Linked DNA regions of Homo sapiens: all the other regions are linked to region 3. The links come from fine-mapping of genetic effects on gene expression. A gene starts in region 3. Each other region holds a variant in brackets. All regions are shown on one strand. Distances are between the middles of the regions.

The links. PIP is the estimated chance that this variant, and not a neighbour inherited with it, causes the effect. A credible set is the group of variants that fine-mapping cannot tell apart.
Region 1: its variant is the best candidate, but not a certain one, in a credible set for the expression of CUEDC1 in whole blood (TOPMed, PIP 0.51).
Region 2: its variant is the best candidate, but not a certain one, in a credible set for the expression of CUEDC1 in whole blood (TOPMed, PIP 0.64).

What each region holds. Positions count from the first base shown.
Region 1 is chr17:57,864,553-57,867,305 of GRCh38, reverse strand. CUEDC1 (CUE domain containing 1) reads left to right here. Exons shown (of 11, transcript NM_001271875.2): 10 at 762-832. The coding sequence ends at 829. Among named protein-coding and RNA genes, the nearest start is that of MRPS23, 16 kb to the right of the region's middle. The variant C/T (reference allele first, on the strand shown) is at 1,512.
Region 2 is chr17:57,915,761-57,918,513 of GRCh38, reverse strand. All of the region lies in intron 1 of CUEDC1 (CUE domain containing 1), which reads left to right. CUEDC1-AS1 (CUEDC1 antisense RNA 1) reads right to left here. Exons shown (of 2, transcript XR_001752948.2): 2 at 2,198-2,753. Among named protein-coding and RNA genes, the nearest start is that of CUEDC1-AS1, 5.0 kb to the right of the region's middle. The variant T/C (reference allele first, on the strand shown) is at 1,448.
Region 3 is chr17:57,953,912-57,956,664 of GRCh38, reverse strand. It overlaps CUEDC1 (CUE domain containing 1), which reads left to right and starts at 1,253. Exons shown (of 11, transcript NM_001271875.2): 1 at 1,253-1,440. RefSeq lists a silencer at 1,329-1,398.

The DNA.
Region 1 (2,753 bases), 89 kb after region 3:
CCCAGCGGAGTTCCTGGGTGTTTCATGGGAGCACCCGCCCTGTCCCCTGGAGGAACACACTGAGGGTTGGTGGGCAGGTGACCCAAAGATATGGATCCCCCTGACTTGGTCGACATTGCTTCCCCCTTTCTGCAACCCCTGAAAAGGGGCCCTAGCCCTACTTCCACCTAGATGTGTACCTGTAGCATGAAGTGCCAGGTACTGTTTCTGGGGAATATTCTTTTGGGTGTGAGGTGGCAGACAGGCCTGCCCCCATGGGGGACCCTCGGCCTGAGAACCAAGCACTGGGCAGCTTCAGTCTGTGGGCCCAGAGGCTTCTCAACTTTCACCCAGTCCCTTCCAAAGGCCACGTGGGCCAGAAGACTCTGCCTCAGACCCTCCTGGGCCCGCAGCTGAACCCTGATCCTCATGCCACATTCGAGGGTCAGGAGGCATCCAGAAACAAGGACTGGAAGGGCCTCAGAGGTCATCTAGATAGTCCAGCTTTTCCATCCCATTTTATAGATGAGGAAATTTGAGGCCCAAAGACGAGGGGAGAACTTGTCCAAGGTCTCAGAGCTCAGTGGTGGACCCTGGCCAGCACCTGAGTGTCCTGCTGCCTCTCTCCCTGGACCCATGCATCGTCTACCTGGGGGGATCTGCATGGGTCCCAAATGAAGGGGGCAGAGAGAGTCGGGTCAGCTCTCTTGCCCAGTCTAGGGGCCGTGCCTGAGCGAGGCCCTGCAGGGTAGAGGATGAGGCAGCTTCCCTCTCCTTTTCAGATGAAGACTTCCGGGGCAGGCGTCAGGAGGCACCCAAGGTGGAGGAAGGCCTGCGAGAAGGACAGTAAGAGGTAAGGCCTGGAGCCATAGCAACCCAGGGACTGCCCAAGGCCAGGGCCCCCCACACTATGCACCCCACATGTCCTCCCAGGTGTCCAGAGGCGCTGGGCTCAGGCAACTGGGTAGCACAGGCCCCACGTGTCTTCCCTCATAGTTGCGGCAGGGACACGGGCGTGGGAACTAGTTCATTGCATGTCTTTTTTGGTTATTTATTCATTTGACAAAAGATGAGCACACCTGCCTATGACAGATGCTGAGAACAGGAAAACAAAATCAGCTTTGACCTTGAAGAGTTTACAGTCCAGTTGAGAAGACAGTCCAGGACACACGTAGCACACTGAGAGGATGATTTAAGAAAAACTGGCTGGGCACGGTGTCCCATGCCTGTAATCCCAGCACTTTGGGAGGCCAAGGTGGGTGGATCAGCTGAGGTCAGGAGTTCGAGACCAGCCTGGCCAACATGGTGAAACCCTGTCTCTGCTAAAAATACAAAAATTAGCCTGGCGTGGTGGCAAGCGCCTGTAATCCCAGCTACTTGGGAGGCTGAGGCAGGAGAATCACTTGAATCTGGGAGGCGGAGGTGGCAGTGAGCTGAGATCGCGCCATTGCACACCAGCCTGGGCGACAAGAGTGAAACTTCATCTCAAAAAAAAAAAAAAAAGAAAAAGAAAAACTGAGGTGGTCTCAACC[C/T]GGCTGTGCACACACACAACTCTCTCCAGCCCCCTGCTTGGGTTGGGTGGGCTGGGATCTGCCACACCAGGATGAGGAAACCCTCCTGAGGCAGCGGTTTCTGGCTGAAGCCCCAGGGCTCCAAGCCATTTCTCCTCCTCGCTTCCTGTGCACCCTCTTGGGGAGAAAAAGAAAATACCAAGGCCTCCTCCAGGAGTTGGCCAAGACAGCTGTCCCTTTTCCAGCCCCCGTTTACCATGGGAGAGGGGAAGCTGCCCGGCCTTCCCCAGCCACTTGTTTGGTCCCAGTGGGCAGCATCTACAAGGCTTTCTTGAGTTGATGGTGTGGCAGGTATGGCCCTGTGTCAGACGATGGAGAAATACTCACTTGCCTCAGGATAGTCACAATGGAGGGAAACCGGGAACAAGTAAATACAAGTGCCCTCTCCTCTCTGCCTGGGCAGCTGGCCCCCACACCCACTCCACCTGACTCCCTACCACATCTCCCACCAGGCACTGCAGCCCCTTCTATTCCCCTCAGGCTTTCCTCAAACACAAAGCCGCGGCCCACTTCCCACTGTCCTGGAATGCCCAGATAGAGCCTGCCGGGGAATCGCCTCCACTGTCACCCCACGCTGCTACTATCTCCACGCCCTTCTCCTTCCTACTGGTCCCCAGGGAGAACGGGTCCTGTCCAAACCACCCCTACATCAGAAACTTGCTCATCATTCATTCATTCATTCATTCATTCATTCATTTTGAGACAGAGTCTCGCTCTGTTGCCCAGGCTGGAGTGCAGTGGCACAATCTTGGCTCATTGCAACCTTCACCTCTCAGGTTCAAGCGATTCTCCTGCCTCAGCCTCCCGAGTAGCTGGGATTATAGGCACCCACTATCTTGCCTGGCTAATTTGTTTTTGTATTTTTAGTAGAGATGGATTTTTGCCATGTGGCCAGGCTGGTTTCGAACATCTGACCCCAGGTGACCTGCCCGCCTGGACCTCCCAAAGTGCTAGGATTACAGGTGTGAGCCACCGTACCTGCACCTCATCATTTATTTCTGTCCTAGGACTTCCAGCTTGTCCCCTTCCAGCTCCTTCTGCAAGTTGACATCCTCCTCCTCCTCCCCTTAAACACCAAGGGTCCTTGAGTCTTCCCTGCCATCCTCCTTCATCCACTGCAGGCTGACAGCCCCTCCCATCACTCGGATTGACTCGGAGGTCACCCAGCAGCTCAGGGCCTTAGCATCTTCTGCATTCTTATGG
Region 2 (2,753 bases), 38 kb after region 3:
CTTCTCAACATCTTAAGGAAGTTCTTTGTCCTGCTGGAACTCCTCCCATGAGGGCTGCATTCTTCCGTTGTCTCTTTGGTGGCTTTTATAACCCAGGGCGGGATACCAGGGTGAGGTTGGGATGACTGGGGGTAGGCCTTTCTTTTGGGAAGTGTTTAGGAGGGCCTTGGTGAGGGGAGAACTGGCAGACCCAGAGGGTTCCCGGCTGATCAGTTTTAGGAAGAAGCACAGGAAGTGGAGCTTTCAGAAGTTGATTCCCTGGAAGCCATCCATGTCTGAATACTTCTGGGAAGTCCCCAGGTTCCCTGAGGGTTTTGCACATGTACTCTGGTGGGAAGACTGTTGAGTAGCAGCCTGGATATCCTACCTAGGATTTTGCTCTGTGGACATTACAGAGCTTGTGGATCTTTGAGACTGAGACTGCTTCTCCCACCAGCTCCCTGGTAACACCTTGAATGCACGCCCCATGTTTCTTCTCAGCTCCTCTCAGTGAGACAGCAGGGGCTCACACTCTAACGATGCCACCTTGTTGAGGGGGTAAACTGAGGTCCAGAACAGGAGAGTGACTACACAGAGCAGTCCATGTACCCCACCAAAAAAGCCAGCTGGCATTCCTAGTGGAGGCATCACAAGGCAAAAAAGCCTTGGGGTGGGTCAGGAGGAGTAGTCTTCAGAGTTCAGCCTCTGCCCCTGCCTCAGTGCACGTCACCTGCATTCTCTCAGCCTCAGTGTCTCTGCCTGTTAAATGAGGCTGATGTGGCAGGTGTTGAGCCTGCTGTTCACAGGCTCTGAAGTTGGGCAGACCTATTTTTGAATCCTAGCTTTGCCACTTACTCGCTGTGTGACCTTGGGTGAGTTATTTACCTCTCTGTGCCTGTCTCCACATCAGTCAATGGGGAGAAGAAAGGCCTCTCTCTCATGGGATGGTTGAGAGGATCAATGAGACAAGTGTTAGTGTCAGGCCCACATGGCATGCTCAGTAAGTATTATTGTTATCCTTGGTTTTTGTTCCCTGTAAGAATTATAGTCAGGAAGAGACTCCGTGGAGTGAAGGCCTGGTTGAGACTCTCCAAGGGCAGGATTGTGTTGGTGCATGGCCTTGCCCCTTCGTCCCAGGATGACCACATGTGCTAAGTGGCACTTAGTATGTGTCACCTGATGAACAATGAGTGCCAGTCAAGAGGCCCTTATGACAGCCTCTGAGCCGCTGCCATCTGCTGGGCCTCTTGTTGTCATCTTCCTCCAACATTCACCCGGGGAGGCATCAAGCCACTGGCCTTGTTGCCCTGGGGGAGATGAGGCTGCCCCCACATTTCCCCATAGCCCAGTGGTTTTGAGAGCACCTGTGTGCCCTGATGGGACCTGTGGCAACCTCAGGGACCTAGTGGGACACCTGTTGCCGCCCATTCTTCTCCACTGTTCAGGTTCCCATGTCCTCCCTATTGGA[T/C]GGGCCTCAGGCGCTTAGCCTGCTCACCTTTCTCTTCTAAAGTCACCACGTCTCCATTTTCTTGTGGGCCTCTCCTAGGAGATGTTTTATGAACAGAGTCCAGTCCCCACCCCTCCATCCCCTCATCTCTTCTCACAAACTTTCCCCTGGAAGTTACTCCCTTGACCCCCTCCTCCTCCTGCTCAGAGAAGTGAATAATGAAATAAAACAGACAGTGCACTCCAGGTGGGATTTTGCTGCTTGAAGGAATCCCTTAGTCAAGCAAGGAATCCTTTTGTAAAGTAAGTGCTCACTGTGGATTTCCGTCTGGGAGTTTTTGCTTGGACTGGTTCTCGAGAGCGGGGCCCAGGCGAGTTTGTGAGCCTGGGGGTGGGCGAGGCTGCTGGCCTCCTCTCTGTGGCCTGAAAGGGCTCCCAGTGTGGCTTCTAGATCCACTGATTACCTTTCATCCTTCCGCTGTCTTCCTGTCAGGGCTCTGGTCTGCCAGCATCGATCACACTGGCCTGGGAGGTGGTGACGGGTTTGTGTTTCTCCCTGTTTTGTTCCTTTGCTTCCCCGTCGCATCTCCATGGAAACAGGTGCAGCCTTTGTGTTGCCTTTGCTTTGGGCAAATCGATGCCAAGTGGGGACTTCTCTGGACTCTCCACCCCCTCCCCTCTCTGGGATCAAAGTGGGAGGAGGGGGCAGTGCAGGGCCTGACAGGAAGCCTTTTGGGGGCCTGGAGGGCCTGGGGTGGGAGACCCCGCTGCATGGCTCCTGTCCTGGCCTGCCCTCATGCCTCAGGCATCACAAGGCCATCGGGATGGAGCAAGTGTGCTGTGATTTAGAAACACTCTCAGCCCCCCTCGGCCTTCTGCATTCTCAGAGGCAGCTGCTGGCCACCTGGGGCGGGTTGCTGGGTAGGAGTCGGAGAGCTGGCACCAGCTTCGATTCTTTGGTGGGACCTTGAGGGTGAGGCCTTTAACCTTTCCGGCCCTTGGTTTCTCCTGAGAGGTTGGAGAGGTTTTGAACTCGTGAGAAGATGAGGCTTCGGTAATATGACTCCTCTTTTACCTTAAGGAAAACCTACATCTGGGTAAACTCTGCAAAGTTTTTGTCATATGATTGTTCTATGGTGAATACTAAATTCTGTGTTTGATTCAAACGGGTGAGTTGCCTGGCAGGAAATGAAACCTTCAGCTTGGGAGCATGTCTTTAGACTGAGCTCTTGCTTATCATAACAGCCCCCTGAGGCCCCCTCCTCCCCGCCCAGCTTGTTCCGCCTTCCCAGGCTCTTAACAACCTATTAGGGAGCCTTCTGTTCCAG
Region 3 (2,753 bases):
GGAGAGAGGAGATCCTCAGAGGGGTTTGGAAACCCAGTCCTGGAGTTCCGTTCAACATGCTAACCTAACGTTGGGCCTCCCCGAGGAGGGTGTGGTTCTGAGGTTTCTCCCCCTCCCAGTTTCCCACCTTGCTGAAGAAACTTGCCCTTGACATGCAAATGATGGAAACACATTGGTGTCTGGGGCACTTTGGTTTGTGGTTTTTACCATCAGCTGTCTCTGAGGCTGAGCGTGTCGATCTGTCTCAGCAAGGCTAGCAAATTGCAAGCGCTCAGAGGAGGGGAGAGGGGGGCTATTCCTGGGGTTCTGGGCCCAGATGGGCAAATGGGTCTGTAAGGCAGACTTTTCCAGGAGGAGGGTGCAGACCCTTTGCAAGTTGTTTGGGGACAGAGCTTAGTTTGCATCTGGCCTTCTTCACCCTCCTCAGATCCCCTAGGTAGCAGGGTGCTTGGTGGTCACCACCTGACCTAGGCTACCTACTCCCAAATTGGAGTCTGAAATGAAAGCACGTGGGAAAAGTATAGCAAAGGTCAGTTTCCCATTTATTAAACAAGTTCTTCCGTGGAAAATCTTCCCAGGGCTCAGCAGCCCTTGAAGTGATCAGGGATGCTGGGGAGGTTGGGGGAGGAGAAAATGGGAGATGGCAGGTGGTATCTGTCGGTGTGGACGAGTGATAGCTTTGATTTGCTCCCCCTTCCCACCATCTCCTGTGTCCTCAGCATTTGATTTGGTTTCCTTTCCGGGGCCCTAATTCCAGGGAGGTGCCCCTCCTCCACACCTGTGTCCCAAGCCCCAGCTGTGCGTCCTCACCCTGGGTTCCTGGCACTGACCTGGAACCTGTCGGGCAGCCCTGCTCTTAGCTCCCCGCGGAGTCTCGGAGGTCTCAGGTCTCCTCCGCCCACCCTCTCCGCAGCTGGGAGGGGCAGGATGCCCCGCACCCCGCTCTGCGCGGGAGGTCGAGGCACCCCGCTCACGCCCTCCTGCCCGCAAGCTAGGGAGTCACTGCGGCCGGGGAGGGAGGTACACGGAGGGCATTTTTCCAGCCTTCACTGGGTGCTCCCCTCTCCACCCCCGGCAACCATGTAGGTTTCCGGACCCCCAGGTCCGCTTCCCTCCTCTCTGGAAAGGGGTCGGCCATAGGGAAAGGGCCCGGGGGCGCCGCAGCCGGGCCCCCGCCCCGCCCCGCCCGCAGCCCCGCTCCTCCCCGCGCGGCCCCACTTGTGGCCCTGCCGGCAGCCGCGCAGGGACAGCTGCATTTCTCGCCGCCCGCCGCTAGGAAGCCGGCCTCGCCTCACTTTCTCCGCCTCCCCGCGCCCCAGCCGCGCCGCCGCCGCCGAGCCTGGCCCCGCCGCCACCGCTGCGGATTGCAGCCCCTCCCCCGCCCGGCCCGCGGCCCGGCCCCTGCGGCCCGCGCGGAGCGGACGCGCGTGGCGCTGCCCGGTAAGACCCCCGCGCTCCCGCGGCTCCCGCCCGGCCCCGGGCGCGGTCCTCGCCGGCGCCCCGCGCGCAATCCCGGCCGCGGCCCCGGCCCAGCGGCCCCACCTTCTCGGGACCCGTTGCCCAGGCGCCGCCGGGAGGGCCGGGCCGTCGCGAGTTTGATTCCCGGGGCTGTCGGCGCGGCTCCCCGGGAGCTCCGCGTGCGGCAGGTCCCCGCCCGCCCTTCCTTCCCGAGCCCCCACCTCATCCCGGGCCCCGGGCGCGGGGGGCGTGCGGGCATCTGGGGGGCCGGGAGCGGGGCGCGCGATTAGACCGGGGGGCGCGGGCCAGCGCCGCAGGGAAGGGAGACGAGGCCTCCCGGAGCCGGCTTCGCCCGAGTCCCCTCTCCCGCCGCTCCCCCTTTTGTGTGGGCGCCCCTCCCCGCAGTGCCCGGGCCTGGGGGCGCAGGCTGGGCGGCGACGGCAGGCGGGGGCGCCTGCTGGGAGCCGAGCGCCTTTCAGGGGGAGGGGAGCTTCGCTTCCTGCCCCCCGCCGATGTCACAGGTCGGCTCAGCCTTTTTTGGTCCCTCCCGGTCCCCTGGGAGCTGTATCTCCCGTCAGCTCGGCCAGGGAAAGTTGGGAATGCGCTGTCCCCGCCCCTGCTCGCCCGCCCCGCCGGCTCCTGTGCCCCAGGCTCTGAGCTCCAAGGGGGGCTGGTGTCAGCGTTTATTCATTCCTCCCTCTTCCTTTTCTCGGTCGCGTGGTCGCCTTACACCCAGCACTGCCCTGCCCATTTCTTTTCCCCTTAAAAAAAGTTTTAGCTCTAAGAAACGTACACTGAAATTAAATTCCTGAGACGGAATGTGTTTTAAGGGGAGGGAGGGTTTAGATTTTCCTTTTTTTGGTGGAGTAGTGGAGTAGAAGATGAGGGGACTCCCTGGGAGTTTAGAAACAAGATGCCCTGGAGGCGATAGAGGATACAAGAAGACCATCCACCGTGCTCCCCACCTGATCCGCAGTCAGCGTCTTGTAGCGAGAGGAATGAGCCTTCCCTGGGTGATCCCGCAGCACCTGAGCCACCTGGCCCAGGAGAAAGGACTCAGGGAGATGTACTGGGCCTTTCACCCCTTTTCTTTATAGCCAGCTGTGCCTGAAGGAGGTGAGGGACCCCAGGAATTCTCTCACGGAGGAAGTCATCTCACCATGTGGTTGGGCCCCTGCTGGATCAAGTGTGAAGCTGGGTCCTCTCTGTTGTTGGGGGTCAGTGCCACTGGTACCTCAGTTTGAATATGGTGCCATCTCTGGGATGGAGAGGTGCTGCTGGGAGAAACCTGGCTC